2 separate regions of the Homo sapiens genome follow, and region 2 is linked to region 1. Evidence: fine-mapped expression QTL. Tissue or cell type: gastroesophageal junction. Region 1 holds a variant in brackets; the other region holds the start of a gene. All regions are shown on one strand. Distances are between the middles of the regions. Region 1 overlaps PSIP1 (PC4 and SRSF1 interacting protein 1). Region 2 holds the start of PSIP1 (PC4 and SRSF1 interacting protein 1).

Region 1 (8,000 bases):
ATACAAAAAATTAGATGGGCGTGGTGGCAGGTGCCTGTAATCCCAGCTACTTGGGAGGCTGAGGCAGGAGAATCGCTTGAACCCAGGAAGTGGAGGTTGCAGTGAGCACGATCGTGCCATTGCACTCCAGCCTGAGCAACAAGAGTGAAACTCTGTCTCAAAGAAAAAACAACAACAACAAAACTGTGATTCTCCATCTAACTTTTTACAATTATCCTTTCACAATTCAAGAAAGTGTGAATGCAAGTCATTACTAACAGTATCTCAGTAAAAGTAGTCCAGGAGCAAATATTTTCTTTTTAACTGGGTTCCCAGCTAGTTCCATTCCCTTGAATTCAGTGGCAAAGTCACTGTCAATAAAAGGTTTTTACTCTTCTTCCTTTTTGAATTGTAACTTGCTTACTGAATTCAGGAATTGGGTGATCAAAAGATAACTGCTTATTATAGTAAGATAACCTTGGAACAGAACTGTGATTAAAAACCTGAATAATAAAAAACACACAAGACCCATTAAAACCTATTCCTCACTTTTTCTTCGTGCTGGCTTCATGGTTGTCTTTGCTGTCTTCATTGCTCTCCCCGTTATGTTGTGGCTGATTACCATCTTGAGCATCAGATCCTCCATTTAGAGTCTTTGACCCTTGCGAAGGAATCCAATGGAAAAACTTTGTTAAAGCTTACAAAACAATAATTGAAGGTGTCCACTAAAGATCCAGAATCAAAATACAACATGGCCATCGTGTTTCTACTACTTAATGTCTTTTATTTGAAATTACATTGTAATACAGCCCTCTCTTGAATGTTAGAATTGGGTTTTGATGGCTTTGTCAAAAAGGGGAGCAGATGACCACCAGAGGCTTTGGGTAGCTAAGGCACCATAAAAAGCAGGTTAACTATCTATGAGTACAGGAAGTGGATTATTAATCTGATTATTCTGGTTGTTACTATTACCAGGAATACTACAGGGTGTTGTAATTCTTAGCATATTCATTTATTCTACCACGGAAAAGCAATGTGAATCAAATTTTAAAATTTACTATTTTAGAACAAAGTGCTAAAGGAGTATTTCCTAATTGATATTTTTGTGCCTAATAAAGGGGGTTTTCCTGTAAGTCGTATTAATAATTCTCTAAGGGGACCCATGTCATTCCCCAATAAAGCAACAAAAACAAAAAACCAACCGACTGCTTTTGAAATGCCAGCTTTTACCTTAAGCAGCTGCCACTAAGATGTTTAATAACAAGACTGGAGGAGCTGATAATGGTACTATGATTCTGTTTTAAGAGTCTTTCATACATTCTGAAATGTTTATGAGTGAAATGGTATGTCAGGGATTTTTCGTAAAACAACTTTCAAGAGGGGCATAGAGAAAGCTTATGGGCTACAAAAGCACAATGATCATAAACTGAACTGCCAAAGCTGGATGACAAGGACATGAGAAGTTATTTCTATTTGTATAAGTTATAAATTTTTCCTAATACAAATGAAAAGAAAATAACTACTGTTAGTAATAAGTACTAGCAGGATTTAACTACTGCTAAAGTTAGTGAAAAAAGTAGAAGCTAAGGTTCAGTGCCTTACATATATGCTACACATCTAAGTGCTTTGTAAGACTTTATCACCAGGCGCGGTGGCTCATGCCTGTAATCCCAGCACTTTGGGAAGCCACGGCAGGTGGATTACCATAGGTCGGGAGTTCAAGACCAGCCTGACCAACATGGAGAAACCCCGTGCCTACTAAAAATACAAAATTAGCTAGGTGTGGTGGCGTATGCCTGTAATCCCAGCTACTCTGGAGGTTGAGGCAGGAGAATCGCTTGAACCCAGAAGGTGGAGGGTTGTGGTGAGCCGAGATCACGCCACTGCACTCCAGCCTGGACAACAAGAGCGAAACTCCATCTTTTAAAAAAAAAAAAAAAAAAGGACATGGCATTAATACTGTGAAGTCTGTTCAGGGTAACTCAGCAGCATCATCAGAATACCTGTATCAAGTAATGGCAGGTGTAGTCTCCACCTATGAGGCTGTGTTTTAATTTAAAAGGCTACTGTACGCTATTTTACTTTTTAGGTGAGAAGAAAACAGAAGCAGCTGAGCAACCAGGAAGTGGGTACTCTAGGGATTAGGAGGCATTGTGATGGATGGGTTTTTAAAAATTGTTTATCCAGAGTCATCTGCCTCATGAGCAATGGTTTCTGCCTTAGAAGTCGAATATAAACTGACATGATTTTTTGTTCTCAATGCACACTGCTCTAGTCCTTCAATAGGCCCATCAGATTTTCACCATTTTGCCTTTGTATACTTTTTCTGTGGCGTATACACAGTGAAACTATGTATGAAAGCCATTTTTAAAAGCAGTCCTGGCAAATGGTTTAAAAACTGGTGTGAAATTGTTGGCTTTTTACCACATACCTGTTTGTTCCTTCTCTAGCTTTTTGTTTGGCCCTTTCTTCCCTTGATCTTTGGTTTTATTCGCTTCCTCATGCTGTCTTTGTTCAGCAAGAGATTTATTCAGCACTTGGGTGATCACGGAATCTCCTTCACCAACCAAGAACATGTTCTTAAACTTGTTATACAACATTGTAGACTTTTCCATGATTACCTGACTAACTTTGAATCGCCGTATCTGAGAAAACAATATACATTCATCATAATTGTTTTCCTAATTGATTTTTTAAACAATTTTTAAATGAAGTAATGACAAAATTCAAAGAATCCACATGACTTGAAATCACTTACTTTTTTCAGTGTAGTAATCATCTCTGTGTGTTTCTGAGCTTGTTGCATTGTGACCTGAAGTGAAGCAAGTTCATCCAAGGCCTCAATGCATCTGTTCACATCCTTCATGACAAAACAGTAATTTCATAGCTGTTAATTATCTTAACACTTAAACAATCTGTTTCTAAAGATCGTTTCCAAAAAAAAAGAGGTAGTGCAAAATGACCAGTAATTATCCCTTAAATTTACATACTCATAAGATCATGTGAGAAAATAAAAGATGAAGCTATAAATGCAGTACTGAAGTATTAAATGAAGTTAAACACTTACAAGATTATCAATTTTGAGTGAATTTTTAATCTCAGCATGTATCCTTTGAAGTCGAGAATCCATTGATGTTTCTACAAATTAAAATATGTGAAAAACAGTGAACAGTTTTTCCAAAACCAGTATTTCTATATACAGGCTAAGTATAATGAATTAGTGGACTTAAAAAAAAAATGTTCTTAGTAATCTTTACTAAGAAGCTCAAAGATATGCACAATAGCTTAACTAAGAATAAGTACTTATTGCCATTTTTAGTGGTTGAGAAAAGCAACATGCAGTGTAAAAGCACAAAACCACCACTTGGCTGCGTTTTTCCTAAAATAAATAGTCTGCATATGATAACTCCTCTGCTCTCCAGTCCCCAAACACCTGCTTTTCCTTATGTTTAACCAAGGGATTTGTCTGAAATGGGAAAGCATCCAGCTTTCAGCAAGTGTACTAAAATTTGACACCATCAAATAATTAATGAGCA[T/G]TAAACATAAACAACTCAAGCAAGTTCACTTGATTATGCTTAAAATACAATGCAATTTATATAAAGCCCATTAGGGATTTGAAAAATTCTATTTGTAGGATATGAGTATAAAATTATTCCAAAACCAATACATGAAAAGTTATGTCTATATAACTTCTTTTCCATGTATAATTTTATGTATCTTAGAAAGTGAAATAACTAACCTCGCTTCTTCTCCACTTTCTTAACTTCTGGCTTCTTTCCTTCATCTTTATTCTGCCTATCAAATGTTAACAAAAATATTTCAACACATTGGAATTTTGTGACTAAATGCCCACAATCCCTATGTAAAAGCTAAAAATGTTTTCCTTAAAATAAGTCAATAGCCTAGACTGCAAAGGAACTGACTGTAGCTCTTAGAATGGTGCAGTTCCGTAGCATAAATATAAGCAAAACTCTAATTAACATGCTAGATTAAATCATATCTGGCTTTTCAGTGACATCACAAATAGTGTGTTGCTAGAAGAGCAATTTCAGGGTCACTGGACAAACAGGCCACAATGGGAAGATGACACCTATAAATGTTTAATGGCTTCTACATCCATTCTTTTTTAAAGCTGCATCTTAAAATAGACCAATTTAATCATTGTGCATGTAACAAGCAGATTAATGAGTTCTGAAGTTAGCTTTAAAGTTAAATAGACTTAAGATAACACTGTTTTTAAAATTTTGGCCAATTCATCAAACTTGAATGACGTCCAGTAACATTCACTAACATTTCACAAAAGGTACCATTTTATTGTCAATCACAAAAATAACCACTTAAAATTGAAATCTTAATTTCTAGTACCTTGGCTTAGAGTTCAGGCCATATTATGAACCAATTCAAATAGACAAGAACAAAAAATATCTAAAAATCAGGTTTTTTTTTTAAAAAAAACTTTATTTTAAAATTTTGGTTACAGTTTCATTCTTAACAAGTCTACTACTGTTTAATCTCTCAGGATTAAAAAAACATTTATTAAGATTCTAAAGAATTAAACAACAAAGGAATGTCAAGAGAAGGGCCCCATTCTCAGGGATATAACTGCTATTCCAGTTTAATAACTAGCTTCAAAACAAAATGAATTTTTATATTTTCTAGATGAATAATGTACAACCACCATCTTCGTCTGAGCTTGTTATTACTTTCAAACACAAAGCTTCATTTTAAGCTTGGTTAAAAAAAAAAAAAAAAAAAAAAAACAGGAATGATGGCCGACCTTAGTATGTAGTGTGTACCTTACAGGAAATTTGTTAATCATAACACAGTAATGCCATTAATAATGAAGTCCTCAATTTAGAATCTGGAACATTCTTCCATCAATGGGGGGAAGGGGGAAATTCAGTCCAATGAGTCTGTATCAAGATCTTCATCTCTTGTTTGCTCCACTTGTATTCTCTTTTCAGTAACTGGATTAATGCTTTGAGCCCAAAATGAGATATATTTTTTATTACTGTAGATTACATGTTGTTTGGCTGGGAATACAATACAATAAACTTTATTTTGCATAATGCATTTCACACAAGCTGCATCTGAAATGCTTTACAGAGCAAAACTGTCCAAGTACAAAGTTTTGTAATAACAGGAGAAGGAAAGAAAACACAAATATTAGAATTTGAGAAAGTTACATTGGAGGACATTCAAAAGAAACTGAAATACATAAAGATAACTTTAAGATACTAAAGAAGGGTTGGGCTACATATACTAGTAACAACTAATTTTATATCTTAATTTTGAGATCACAATAAAGTCAAAAGCAACAAACAGTCCAACAGCTTTTCAGTGAAAAGATAGAATAGAAAATGATAGGTGACAAAGAATAACTTAAATATTTACAGAAGTGCTTAAAGTCTAACATTAGAGGGAATAATATTTTTGAGCTTTAGATAAGTTATTTAAATTACTCCCTCAAGGAGCTAAAACTACTTGTATATCCTCCAAACTAAGAAAGCAGAGTAAAACGCTGTACTTGTCAAGAAAGACTTTGGCTTACGGATATATTATATAAAGAAAAAAAGTACAAAATTGTTCAAGAATTGTTTTACTGCTCATCATTAACTTTGTCTTATTGACCTAGAGCATGTTTTAAAAATCACCTCACTAAAACAACAACAAAAAAACAAAATTTAGTCAGAATGTAAGACGCTTCACGAGAAAAGAAAAGCATGTCAGAGAAAGAACTCAGAAGTGACAGTCTAAAGGTAACTAGGAAAGCAAATGTAATAAAGACACGAAGTCTGTTCATTATTATCATTGCTATTACTTTTCCTTCTAGTAATAAAATTATATAGTAAGGGGAAAGAAATTCCCCATGGCAAGTCCTGTCTCTATAAGTATCAAAATTTAAGAGAAAACAGCTTTGAATTTGATTTATATTGCACATACATAATAATGTACACCCTGTCAGCCTTTAGATTTACTTTTACTGGCTTCCTGGGTTTCCAAATGTGCTTTTGTTACTTTTGCTGGTCTTTAGGGTGAGGCCTGCTTGGTGGTGTGATGAATAAGGGCATTTCCTGCATTCTTTGTCTACCAGTATATTATCGCCCCTCTATCTATATGTATTATATTATACAAACAAATGGTTGAGGATGAGTACACTTCTTGCAAAGCCAGTATCAATTAAATCCTATCTGCACTTCGTTTAAATTCAAAAATAATTCACAGAGTGACTGCCTCAGTCAATTTCATCCTCTCAGAAGAGAATGAAGCCTGAAATAAGATCATCATCATATATTGAAGATTTTTCTAACACATGGGAAAAGTCACTTCTTCAAAAGGCTTCATAAAGTCTGGAAAATGAAAGTCTATTATTTAAAAATTCCATGCTAGCCTTTAAAAAGAACCCAAAATTTAGAAAAAAAAAAATACTTACTGCTCAGTTTCCATTTGTTCCTCTTGCTTGCGTTTTCGATCTGCTGCTTCTTTCTCATGTTGGCCTTTCAGCATATTCCTTCTGTGAGCAGTCTGAAAGTTCCTCCCACCTTTTCTCTTCTGTTTTGAGAATTAGGATGGTTTTATTTAACTATAAAGTCAGTGACTAGTGCTTATGGAATTATAATCTTGGGGGAAAAGCAGCAGCTAGTTTTTAAAAAAGGGATGAATACTCAAATTAGCAACCTAAAAATAGTCTTTGAATTACACCTATCTCTGCAAGTTTAACTTTGATTAATGACCGTGAAATAATCATCTTGTTTTATGCCCTGCTATAGGAGTGATGTCCTTTGGATAAAATATAGTATGTCAGTCTGTTTGCCTCTCTACAGAGTGATTTGACTTGAGTACTGACAAGCACACTACATGACCTATCCAATTTAAAATGTTTGGTTTCTAAAAGATTAAGAAATGAGCCAAAAATCAGATGAAAGTAAACAAAAGATTTGCATGACCTGAATCTGTAAATCTCTAAGGCTATACACAAAATTTTATTTTTCTACACAAAAGGATACACAGCTTTAATGAGGTTCCCAACAACTATGGCGTCCAAATAAATTTACATACCACTGATAAAATGTACAATAGGCCTGAAGGGTGTTAAGAACTTCTTGGGGGTAAATAACAAAAATCTCTATATAAATCCACCTCTTTTAACATTTGTCTTCACTGGCCACAGCCTATTTCATCTACCTTTTCTAGACAGATGGGGTTATTGGAAAGGTACTGTTTACTTAATTTCCAGATCATAATTGTAAAATAGATGAATTTAGAGAACAGATAATAAAGGGACGTTTTCAATATGCTTTGTAACACAGCTAATTCAAGTCTATTCAAAAAGGTAAACAAATTCATTTTAACTGCCACTGATATTTATAGACTTCCTCCAAAATATTAAAAGCTCTTAAACTGGGCAGATTAAGAAATACATAAATGGCCAGGTGTGGTGCCTGTAATCCCGGCACTTTGGGAGGCCAAGGTGGGAGGTTCACCTGAGATCAGGAGTTCAAGACCAGCCTGACCAAGATTGCAAAACCTTGTCTCCACTAAAAATACAAAAATTAGCCGGTAGTGGTGGCACATGCCTGTACTTCCAGCTACTCAGGAGGCTAAGGCTGGAGAATTACTTGAATCCAGGAGGCAGAGGTTGCAGTGAACCAAGATTGTGCCACTGCACTCCAGCCTAAGCAACACAGCGAGACTCCATCTCAAACAAAAAAAAAACAAAAAAAAAAACAAAAAAAAAACAAAGAAAAAACAAAAAATATATATATAAACTAAGAATAGAACAGCCATTTTATATATGTAAACTTTATACCTTTTCACCTTCTTGATCATCTCCTTCTTCTTCAGAATCGGAGGTTGAAGTAACCCCTGTTTTAGCTAAATTTTTCCTTTTTGATTCAACTTCTTTCTTCCCCTCTTTTTTATCCGGCTCTTTTCTTGGCTTATCTTCTTCCTTCTGGCCCTCTTCATCCTTCTTAGGCTGCTTTTTAGGTTGTTTTTCCTCTTGCCCCTTTTTCTTACTT
Region 2 (12,274 bases), 42 kb after region 1:
TGAATTAATGTCTACTGCCTAATAACCCTGTTAAATTAGCTCTGATTTGCCTTTAAAGCTAACAGGACTTACGTCTCATGAGTTCCAAAAAAGAAAATGGGTAGTTTGTTTGTGGGTGGCTTTACAGCTCCATCAGGAACTTCGTCTACCTAAAAGAAAAGTGAGAAAAATTAAAATATTTTAAATCATACACACCTCAACATTTATCTGAATAAACAAGAGCACAACATCCAAAAGGGTTCTGTTATAAAATGGGCCAGTTCTGCAGGCCCATAATCTCCTATCCCCAAATCTGAAACCCAAGAAGCTCTGAAAACCAAAATTTCTGTCAAAACTCATTTGGTGGCAAAACCTGGACTGACATTGAGGGTATCAGTCATTTCTTTTATCCACCTGTTTCCACTGTTGTTTCTTTGCAGACATATTATTATGTGCTATTCCAGACCGCACCAGCAGCAAAATATATGGCATATGTACTCTCCCTGCCTTCCTAAAATCCCAGAATTCTGAATTGTTAATCATATCATTTCAGGTAAGGAGTCTGAACCTATTTGACAACCCTAAATGTTAGTTCTGCAGGAAATCTATACAAATAACAGACTAATGTAAAAGCAGACATTGACAAAAGTTTAAATCAGTACCTCCCAAAGTCTGAAAAACTTACTATGAAAAGATCCTTCACTGATGTGCCTGAATCACATGAGGCTACCTGTTCCTTTTTCACTGCTCTTTCAACCTTTTAAATTATGTAAGGAAGAAATCATCAGGTGCTGTCACGTCTAATATATCCATAATACTTGTTACTTTCCCTCATCAATAAAGGAAAAGCAGACCTCAGGACTAAAGCAGTACTATCTAGCTAGAATTTAACAACATGTCGGCCAGGCGCGGTGGCTCACACCTGTAATCCCAGCACTCTGGGAGGGCAAGGTGGATGGATCATGAGGTCAGGAGTTCAAGACCAGCCTGACCAATATGGTGAAACCCGGTCTCTACTAAAAATACAAAAATTAGCAGGGCACGGTGTCAGGTGCCTGTAATCTCAGCCACTCCAGAGGCGAATCACTTGAACCTGGGCAACAGAGGTTGCAGTGAGCCGAGATCATGCCACTGCACTCAAGCCTGGGTGACAGAGTGAGATCCTGTCTTTAAAAAAAACAAAAAAAAAGAATTTAACAACATATCTATTTTAAATGTCATAATTTTCATAATTTCAAAAACACTTCAATTTGAAAATCAGCTGACTTTGTTAAGAAGGGGGTTGACCATCAGAGGACCTACTATCCTCTGTAAGCATTATGGTGTTGCAGAAGAAGACCATCAGGATGACTGAACTGATTTGTGAGGGAAGTCTAAAGGCTTTCACACACCAACAGAATCATTACCACCCAATATCTCTAGGGACCTATTTCCCCACTTATATGATGAAGATCACACCTGTTATCTCAACTTTGTGGGAATGTCCCGATAATTGCAAAAATCCTTAATCCCTTAAGAGATCATTTCTGTTAACCCAGTTCATATGCCTCTTTCTGCTAGCAAACAGCTTAAAGAGTTTATGCAAATACCTAGCACCTATAGCCTTTAGCAAATGCCGGGCAAAATTTAAGTTGATTTTTTAAATAATTATTACTGGTAAACGATTATGTACATGAATGTTTAAGACTTAAAAATTAATGAAGTTTGGGACATGTAGACAGAAATGTTAAAGCAAAAATTGCAACAAGAGGTGTCACCTTTACGGCTCAGACTTTAAATATGGACTCTAAACTCTACAGCAAAGATTTCAAATTTTTAAGAATGAAGAAGACAGAAAAAGGAATGTAACTGTTGGACACAGAATACACCAACACTAAATGGAGGTGTTTCTCAGAAAAAATGATGGGGAAAAGGGAAAAGACAAACACTTCCCTTCCAATCCAAATGAACTTGTTAAATGTAGAACTTGTTAAATAAGGAAAACACTCTGGTCTTCCAAAGGCTACCCTATTTTATTTTCAGTAGCACTCTTAGTCACTTAACATATGAGCGTGGGGAGGGTGATTTGGGAGATTTTTTAAACATTTCCTTTGGCTTTTAACTTCACTGTGGCATGCAAATCGGAATATAGATCTATTAGACAACCTCATATTTTCAAACACCTCAAAATAAACAAGGATACCTCGAAGACCATGAAAAAGTATATCAGAGGGGCCTTAAACCTGATCAGTTTCCCTAGGCTCCATTTGAACGTGAATTGTGTTTTATAGGTGCATCATATATACTACGGACTATGGAGGGTATAAACAAATTCCATTTAAGGTTGTTGCCCTCGGTCTCACAATATATTTGGAGGTCAAAGCATACACAGAGTTAAGAATTAAAACAAAAGATTATCACGAAAGGAATAGATTAGAATGTAAAATATACAGACAAGGATTATGACTAAGGATTGTTCAAGTAAGACTGCACCGAAAAGGCAGACTTTATAGGCAAGGAAAAAAGCTTTGGAAGGAAACTTGTGAACAGGAGTTTACGTAGAGCAGCTAGATGGAAGAAAGTCAAGGAACAGTGATCGTTTTACACTTGGATGGCACTCTCAGCTCCTAGACAGGACTCCGTTATCTAATGGGTGTTTTCCACCATTCCCCTGCTGACATAACTAAAACTACAGAATTTAATTATTTTTAAGAAATACATTTTCAAAGGACAGTAAATTAGTCGAAAATAAATGGCTTGGAAAAATAAAACTTCAGAACCCCATGTAAGTATATTTTTAAAGGATCTTGAGTTTACCTAATCTAATTGATTGCAACATATCTTAGGTCCTATCTATCTCTGTTTGAGAGCCTGGGTACCACCATAAACAAAAAGAACCCTTTTTCTAAAAATGGAGCGTAGATCTTTAAACAGTCTCAATTCCTCAATGTCACAAAACATCCTGGGTCCTTAATCATTTCTCTGTACCACTAGATGTGAACTGAGGAATCTGGTCCACACCTCCTTTTTGCCTATTGGAAACAAAAAGGTAAAACAACTTCTTCAAGGTCATAAACATCTCAAATAAAAAAGGAGAAATGAATTTTCTGGCCCTTCCTCGGTACTAAACTACTGTAATACTTTCAAGAATATCCAGTCCTGAATCTGTATTAAACAAGCAAATCCAGAAGGCCTCATCAAGTACAAGGTATTTTTTTTAAAACCCTGTAAATCCAATTTAATCACATACGCACTTCTCTGACATCCAAGTGTTTGTGTGTAATCTGCACAAATTCCATTGATATTTTGTACTTGATCCAAAACTATGGAAATGTCAATGTTTCACTAATTTTTAAACAAAAATTCACTCTTCATTATTTCACCTACAATGGAATATTAACTAGCAACGCATTTAAATATTTCCTAGGAAGAAAATCTGTCCAAGTCTGCCAATAAACCATAGGGAAATACACAGGTATGTAGAAACGTCTGGATTTTCATAATTACACGGGAGATTATTGGGCAAAAAACTAAAATGAAAGGTCAGGTTACAAATGAGACTAAAGCGAGGGAGAGAAAGGACAGAAGAAAAAATAAAGAGACACGGTGGGCAGCAGGCCTCTGGAGAGGAGGGTAGCACTGCTAAGCGCGAGGGCTACAAATCACTTACTCGAGCTGGCCAATGGGGATAACCTTTCATCTTGGCGAAGATGAGGTCTCCAGGTTTGAAATCGCGAGTCATGTTTCGGGGGCGAGACCGGGGGTCCGAAGCCCGGGAGGCGGCGAGGAGATGCGGCGGCGCGGGGATGCGGGCGGCGGACGCGGGCCCAGCTACCGGGCCCGCGGGCGGGGGAGGATGCCTCGGGGCGTCCCGACGCGCCTGCTAGGGAGAGCACCGAGGGCGGTTAAAGCGAAGAACCCCGAAGGGAGGGGCCGCAAGGGGAGGGGGAGGGGAACCGGCGGGTGGGGGTGGGAGAGCGAGGGGACGGCCGCCTCCCGCTCCTCCCCCGCCAGTGCGCTGCCTCCGCGCTGGAGCAGGTCCTCCACCCCGCCACCGAAGAGACGCCACCACCTGAAGCAGGGATGCTGCCCGGCCAGAAATCGCCCGTCTGCCCGCCCCATCTTTCTCCGGGCTTTTTCCACCGAGCTTAAGCCCCAAAAGGGAGGGGGTGCATGGGAGAGAAAAAGGCAGGGATTCCGAGAAGCGAGCGGCCCCCTTCCGCCCACGCAAGGCCTCCCCCGCAACCTGCTGCCCAGCGGCTGCAGCCTCGGCCCCCTCGGCTCCCGGGCGGGCCGCGTCCACTTCCCCGCTACAGCCAGGAGCGACGCCACCGAGGGGGGGGCGGGGCGAGTCCCCGTCGCCCGCTCACCTGCCGGGGCCGCGGGCGCCGACGCTGCGGTTGCTGGCCGGTCGCCTCTACCCGCGTCCACGCAAGCCACCTGCGCCACCAGCTGCCGCAGAGGCGTCTCAACGGCTCGGAATCGCAACCGCGCCGCCGCTGCCGCCGCCGTAGCTGCGCTGCTCCCGCGCGGCTCCCGCTCGGCGCCCGCTAGCACTGGGGCGCGACCAACTGTTTACCGAGAGAGGGGGGATGTTGCAGCACCCGGCGAAGCTGTGTGGCTCCGAAGCGGATTTTCTGGAAACCCTACGTCCCCAAGTTCGCTTTCATGTAACAGGTGCATGCAGATGGAGAGGAAGACGCAAGCGAAGAAGAAAGGACTGGGCGAAAATAGCTCGGCCTGCCGCAAGTTCCCCCTGCGGTTTGCGGAGTGGTCGGGCCCGGCCCGCCCCTGCTGGCTTCTCTGCGTGTGTGTATTTGTATGTGTACTGTATGTAAAAGGCGGGGAGGGAGGAAATGATTGTTGTGGACGCGGTTTTGGGGGCGGGTATCCGGGCCTCTCTCCCTTGGCTGCGTGTTAGGGAGAAAGTGGCAGTAAAGATTCATGTTCTTGTATCGTTTCCAGGGTGGGGAGGTTTGAATGCTGCTTTTGCGCGGTTTGCATCATCCAAAAAAGAGGAGCTGTACGAAAACCCTAAGATGAAATTGGAGCATGCGGCGGTTGCAGGGTGTGCTGCATCTAGGCCTCTTGCACCTCGCTGAATGGGCCTCGTAGTCTCCTTTTCCTTGAAATTGTAGTATGAGAGAGCCCTATTTCATTTCTTTTGCATTTGCATCACCAAGAACTATTAAGAAAAATGCAACCCTACTGAATGCAAAATGCGAAGGGTAGAAAACAATGACAGGAAAACAGAAACCTTTTAGATAGGATGTGAGTTTGGGCCCTAACTAAATTTTAGCTGCATCTAAATTTTATTTCCCTAGTAGAATAGGAGCTGGTAGGTGGTACAATGTGTAAGTGTTACTAAACCTCAAATATTTTCTCTCTTAAAATGCTCTTCAAGGGATTTTAAAGGTTAATTTTTTGATCCTTTAGAGAGGCTGAAAATATTTTTAAAAAGAATGTTAAGACATATAAAAATAAGAATAATAAGACATATATTAGCACCTAGATAATACTGTTTTAAATACGGGACTCAACTGGAAATGAATTAGGAAATTTTTTTTGAATTGGTAAAAATTGAGAATTTTTTGAAAGCGATACAGCATGTCTTTAAAAAGGAATGAAAGAAGACAGTCCCAAAGTAAAATGTCCTGTAAGGAGTTTCGAGAAACTAAGTATACCTGGGCAATATGCAGAGAGTTCCAAGTGGAGCAAAAAGAGAAATTGGCAGAGGAGAAGGAAGGGTTGGTGAAATGTCTTGAAGCTTCTCATTCTGAATATGAATTTAATGTGTGTAGTAGGAAGCTACTATAGGTTGCTCAGCAAGAAGGGGGTAAAAATGATTATTTAACCAGTTCTTGATGTTTCAAGGTAGATGTTAGTAGAAAGAGGCTGGGGGTAACTGGAGTACTCATGAAATGACGCATTTCTCAGTGAGAATGGTGACTAAGAAAAGGGAAGGAAGAGCACAACTAAGTAATTACACAAAGGAATGATTGTCAGGTGTTGGCTATAAATTATGCATAGGAAAAGGTGGAAAAAGATGTATTGAAGAAAAGCTCAAGATACAGAGTAAGAGAGACCAAAGCAGCATCCAGCAATCATTTTTTTGTGTGTATGCACTTTATTTGTTCTAAACCCTGTAAGGCCTTGCTACTTCAAGTGTGGTCCAAGGCCCAGCAGCAAGGGCTTTACCTGGGAGCTCAGGTAAAGCTCAGACCTTCCCCAGGCCTTCTAAATCATAATCTGCGTTTTAACAGGATCCCTAGGTGATTCTTACGCATATTCAAGTTTGAGAAACTGCTTTAGAGGATACCTCAGACTGTAAAAACTTCAAACTAAGAAAAACAGATATATAACAAGTTATAATTAACGTTAAAGATAACTTTTTATTAGTACTAATGGTAGGATTAACAGGTAAAGAGGGGGTAGTTAGTGTTAGAGGGGACCTCAGAAAAGAAATAAAAAAGGGAAAATGGAAAAGCATTGATGTTTTACTATTAGTATTTTCTGTTGTTTTTGTTGTTTTAAAAAAAGGAAGTACCATACTTAGCTCCTGCTGCCTTTAAGTTTTGTCCGCTTCAACCTGTGGTAGTTTGTGAACAACAGGAGATACCCTTTAAACAATAAAGGCAAAACAGGTGGTGGTTTAAGCTTCCAGAGAACAAAAGCCCAGGATCCCTGGGAGCAACAGTTCTGAATCTGCGAGGAAAGGGGGGGGGAGGGGAGGGGAGGGGAGGGCAGGGAACGGGGAAGGAAAGCTGGGCACATCCTAGCCACTTGGGAGAGCTTTTCTGTGCTCTTTTCCAGCTATGCTTGGTGCAGCCCTCTCCCATAGTCAGCCTTCTTAGTGGGGATACTTGAAAAAGTATACCAAAATGGAGATCAGAGGAGCAATGGGAAAGTTATAAGGAGAAAGAGTGTAATTTCCAAAACAACTGAAGCAAGGGGAGGGGGCAGGAAAATCCAAATGAGTTGAGGCAGGAACTTGGCCTACATTATCTCATTTAACCCAAGTGCCACTATCCCCATTTCACAGATGAGAAAATAAGCTCACAGAAGGTAAGCAGCTAGCTTGCCCAAGATCACACATCTAGTCCAGGGGCTGAGGCAACATTCTAGCCCCTCTGGCTACTTGCCCATGCCATTTTTGTGATCCCACATCGCCTCTAGGTGGGGCAGGGAGGCAGCAAGGCTGAAGGAGGAGTGGCTTATAATTAGAAAAGATGCTGGAAGGAAAAGCAGCCCAGTACTTACTCTTCCACCTTCCACCTTTGGGCTTGAAAGTATTCCCAGCTTCAAATTTCCTAACAACCTCCCTCCACACCATGCCATTCCCCAGCTTGTCCCCAGCACGAGACCATTCTGTTTAACTCCTTCTGGTCCTAAAAAACTCAACCCAAAAATCACCTCTGGAAAAGATGTGACCTAATCTTAGAGTAACATAGTTTCTTATTTACACTCTTTCCTACTAATCTGTAAACTGCTTAGAAGTAGGCACTATCTTATTCATCAGTGCAGGTACTCAATAAAAAAGCGCCGGACGCGGTGGCTCATGCCCGTAATCCCAGCACTCTGGGAGGCCAGGGCAGGTGGATCACGAGGTCAGGAGTTCAAGACCAGCCTGGCCAACATGGTGAAACCCCGTCTATACTAAAAATACAAAAATTAGCCGGGTGTGGTGGTGTGCGCCTGTTAATCCCAGCTTCTCAGGAGGCTGAGGCAGGAGAATCCCTTGAACCTGGGAGGAGGAGGTTGCAGTGTTCCAAGATCACCCCACTGCACTCCAGCCAGGGTGACAGAGCGAGACTCTCTCTCAAAAAAAAAATTCCTTTTCAAAAATATTTATTGAGTGAATGAGAGGGAGGGGCAAGTGAAAAACCCCAACAGACTCATTAATCCTTTAGGATGAAAATACAGGTAAGTATGACACATGGAAGTGTTTTTGTTTTGACTTTATGAATTTTTCTTGTACAGTACTTAAAGGTTAACCCTTTAAGAGCAGTGACATTTTTCATTCACTACAAATACATTCATTTTAACTATTTTAATGAAAATCTTTCTAAATGAGATCTTTATTCTAAAAAATTAGCAACAATCTCTTCCTTCGTATCTCTTGCATAATTTCCTACCTTAATACACAGTGTTAGTGATGCACCTTCAATTTATTGGTATGAACAGGTATTGAACTGTTTTCTCGTGTTGTATGTTAATCCTTATGATGGGGAAATAGTGGGAAGTTAGCAAGAATATGGGGGAAAATAAAGAGCATTAATCAAAGAGCTAGTTTAGTTGGGGATGTCATAAATCCAATCTAGGTCTTGCTTCCCATGAAAATCAATAAGCATTCAAAGCTTTGACTCCCAGGTGGGCAAAAACCAAGAAGTACTAGCTTATGAGCTGGTAGCTAGGTTTACTGCTGAGCTGGTTTACCAATGTTTAGAGGAGAGTTGTTTTCAGCACATGAGATAAGAGAAGTCTTAAGGAATCTGAGTGCTCCTTAGAAAGACTAGAAAGAAGCAAGGCAAAGATAGAGTTTGACAGTTGACCTGTGAGTACTATTAGTGCCTTTTGTGAAGACTGCCTAGACTGTGGGCCGTTCCAGTGGGAATTTTTTTTTTTTTTTTTTTTGAGACGGAGTCTCGCTCTGTCACACAGGCTAGAGTGCAGTGGCGCAACCTCGGCCCACTGCAACCTCCACCTCCTGAATTCAGGCAATTATCCTGCCTCAGCCTCCCGAGTAGCTGGGATTACAGGTGCCCACCACCATACCTAGCTATTTTTTTTTTTTTTTTTGTATTTTTAGTAGAGACAGGGTTTCACTATGTTGGCCAGGCTGGTTTTGAACTCCTGACCTCAAGTGGACCATCCACCTCGGCCTTCCAAAGTGCTAGGATTACAGGAGTGAGTCATGGCACCCGGCCTTTTTTTTTTTTCTTTTTTTTTTTGAGATGGAGTCTCACTCTGTTGCCCAGGCTGGAGTGCAGTGGTGCAATCTTGGCTCACTGCAACCTCCACCTCCTGGGTTCAAGTGATTCTCCTGCCTCAGCTTCCCAAGTAGCTGAGATTACAGGCATGTGCCACCATGCCCGGCTACTTTTTTTGTAGTTTTAGGAGAGATAGGGTTTTGCCACGTTGGCCAGACTGGTCTCGAACCCCTGATCTCAGGTGATCTGCCCTCCCCGGCCTCCCAGAGTGCTAGGATTACAGGCGTGAGTCACTGTGCCCAACGTCCAGTGGGATTTTTAAAAAAAATCACTAGATGACCTGATTACTTCTCATCTCAGATACTTGGTTTGCTTCTTTCTTACATCTCCATCTCCAGTCTTGGTTAAGGGTTCTCTTACCCACATGTGTATATGCCATACTCCTCTTTGACTCTGCTGCCTGATTTTGCCTTTTTCCCTGCTTCATCTTATTCCTTTGTCTACATTCTTTCTCATTTTCCTCCGTGTTCTTACTCCATGATTTTGGTGTGTGAAGTGTGTAGCTTTGAAAGTAGAATGATGTCTTGCTCTGGTCAATAGACCTACCAACCTACTGATGTCTTTTATTGTCTTTGTACCATTGATTCTTCTAGGTCAGCTTTCTCAGAGTGTTTTATGAGAACAGTAGTATAGCTTGAGAAGTTAAAAGGCCTAAATTAGGGAAAAGGAAATTCTATAGACAAGTGAATTTGAGAAACGCAGAGTCAAAGTTGCATGGCTTTCTTTAAAGTAAGACATCTCAGAGCTGTTAATATATTAAATTTGCTTTATGAATTTCTAAAATGGGTTTTTAGCCATCAGTCCAAAGTTATTTGATAATGGAACTCCCCTTTCTTTTTTCCTGGAAAACCGTCACCTAGGACTAGTGATGGTAAATATTGTACCATGCAACATTTTGGCGATGTGCTTTCTTATGAGCTTATTGATAAGCAGGGGATGTGAGGTTGAGCTCTGATAGCCAGACAGACACCAGAGGCTTTACTTTAAATGCAAATTTAATGTATCTTAATATTTAGAAAAAGTAACTCAGGTGCTCGATGTTCAATTACAGAGAAAAAACTAATAGTTACCACTTTGATATGACATAAGAAAAGAGAGCACAGACTTTGGAGTCAAGCATGAGTTCTGATCATGGCTCTGTCACTTTCCATACGTGCTATTAGGCAACTCTTAACTTCATGTACTTATTTTCTTATCAGTGAAATGTGAATAAGGACACTTGCCTTGGAGGGCTATTGTGAGGATTAAATTAGATCATAAATATATAATGTGCATGATATTAGTATCTTAGCCATGTTTACAACCTAGGGGGAGAAATAAGTAATTGTCTTCCATGTATGTATAGGATTATGCTATGACTGGGTCTAAAATCCAACTAGATGTAGAGGGAAAAGTTCTGTATGAAAACTTCACTTCTAAGGACTGCTGGATGACAAATTACTGGTTTGACTTTGCTGTTTGGGGATTTTTTTCTTCTTCTTGGATTGGTCTTTTATAATTATTATTATTATTATTATTATTATTATTATTATTATTATTTGAGACAGGGTCTTGCTCTGTTGCCCAGGCCGCAGTGCAACGGCCTGATCTCGGCTCACTGCATCCTCAAACTCCTAGGCTCAAGTGATCCTTCCCTCTCAACCTGTGGAGTAGATGGGACTACAGTCGCATACCACTATCCCCAGCTATTTTTTTTTTTTTAATTTTTTGTAGAGACAAGGTCTCCCTATGTTGCCCAGGCTGATCTCAAACTCCTGGTCTCAAGCAATCCTCCTGCCTCGGCCTCCCAAAACTGTAGGATTATGGGCACGAGCCACAGTGCCTGGCCTGGTTTGGGTTTTTTTGTTGTTGTTTTTTTTTAAGATTTTATTTTTTGAGAGCAGTTTTAGATTCACAGCAAAATTGAGAAGATACAGATGTATCCCATATGCCCTCTACCCCCACACATGCATAGCGTATATCATTATCAACATCCCCCACTAAAGTGTTACATTTTTTACGATTGATGAAACTACATTAACATATTACCCAATGTCCATAGTTTACATTAGGGTTCACTATTGCTTCGTGCATTCTATGGGTTTGGACAAATTTATAATGACATGTATCCGCCACTGTAACATCATACAGAGTAGTTTCACTGCCCTCAAAATCCTTTCTGCCCTGCGTATTCATCCGTCCATTCCCCAAGTCATGGCAACCACTTATCTTTTTACTGTCTTCATACTTTCCCCTTTTCCAAATCATACAATATGTAACCTTTTCAGAGGCTTCTTTCACTTCGTAATCTGCATTTAAGTTTCCTCCATGGCTTGATAGGTAATTTCTTTTTAGTTCTGAAACATATTCCATTGTCTGGACATATTTTGTTGGTTCGAATATTCACCTACTGAAGGAAACTTGGTTGCTTCCAAGTTTTGGCAATTATGAATAAAACTGCTATAAACGACTATGTGCATGTTTTGTGTGAACATAAGTTTTCAACTTATTTGTGTAAATACCAAGTTCTGTAATTGCTGATTCATATGGTAAGAATATGTTTCACTTTAAGAAATTGCCAAACTGTTTCCCAAAGTGGTTGTACCATTTTATATTCCCACCAGCAATGAATGAGAGTTCCTGTTGCTCCACATCCTCATCAGCATTTGGTGTTGTGTTTTGGATCTTGGCCATTCTATTAGATGTGTATTAGGTATCTCATTGTTATTTTATTTTTTATATTATAGCTCATAACTTATTAGCTCCTCCACAGTGGTTGGTAGAAGATTTCTGCTTAAGTATGTTTTATATGTGTCCTTTAGTGAAGAAAATATTTGTTAAGATATCAACCTAGAATAATATGGAAACCTAAGGTGGCTTGGAGAAAACAGTGTTTATGTACAGATTACAAAATATTTCGAAAATACAAAGTAGTAGCAATGAATTTTTTAAATTTCCATACCCACAAATTACCCTGTTAAAATGTTTGTGAATTATCTTCCAGTCTTCATTTGTATAGATTTTTTTTTTTCAGGCAGGGTCTCGCTCTGTCGCCCAGGTTGCAGTGCAGTGGCACAATCACACCTCACTGAAGCCTCACCCTCCTGGGCTCAAGCGATCCTCCCAGCCGGAGTAGCTGGGACTACATGTGTACACCACCATGCCTGGCTAATTTTTTATTTTTTGTAGAGAGGAGGTCTCTGTGTTGCACAGGCTGGTTTTGAAAGCTGGGCTCAGGCAATCCTCCTCTCTTAACCTCCCAAAGTGTTGGGATTACAGGCATAAGCCACCACACCTGGATTTTTGTATAGATTTTTAAACATAGTTTGTAAATATTGTTTTGAAAT

What was found. PIP is the estimated chance that this variant, and not a neighbour inherited with it, causes the effect.
Region 2: it holds the start of PSIP1, and the variant in region 1 is the best candidate, but not a certain one, in a credible set for the expression of PSIP1 in gastroesophageal junction (GTEx, PIP 0.85).

Annotation. Positions count from the first base shown.
Region 1 is chr9:15,466,220-15,474,219 of GRCh38, forward strand. PSIP1 (PC4 and SRSF1 interacting protein 1) reads right to left here. Exons shown (of 16, transcript NM_033222.5): 9 at 7,790-8,000; 10 at 6,413-6,531; 11 at 3,719-3,774; 12 at 3,047-3,117; 13 at 2,738-2,839; 14 at 2,411-2,624; 15 at 529-640. It also overlaps a transcript of SNAPC3 not described here. Among named protein-coding and RNA genes, the nearest start is that of PSIP1, 41 kb to the right of the region's middle. The variant T/G (reference allele first, on the strand shown) is at 3,516.
Region 2 is chr9:15,506,489-15,518,762 of GRCh38, forward strand. It overlaps PSIP1 (PC4 and SRSF1 interacting protein 1), which reads right to left and starts at 4,482. Exons shown (of 16, transcript NM_033222.5): 1 at 4,329-4,482; 2 at 3,629-3,841; 3 at 73-149. The coding sequence starts at 3,700. RefSeq lists enhancers at 3,595-4,548, 4,549-5,501, 6,154-6,772 and silencers at 3,608-3,807, 3,908-3,957, 4,088-4,147, 4,158-4,367, 4,388-4,467.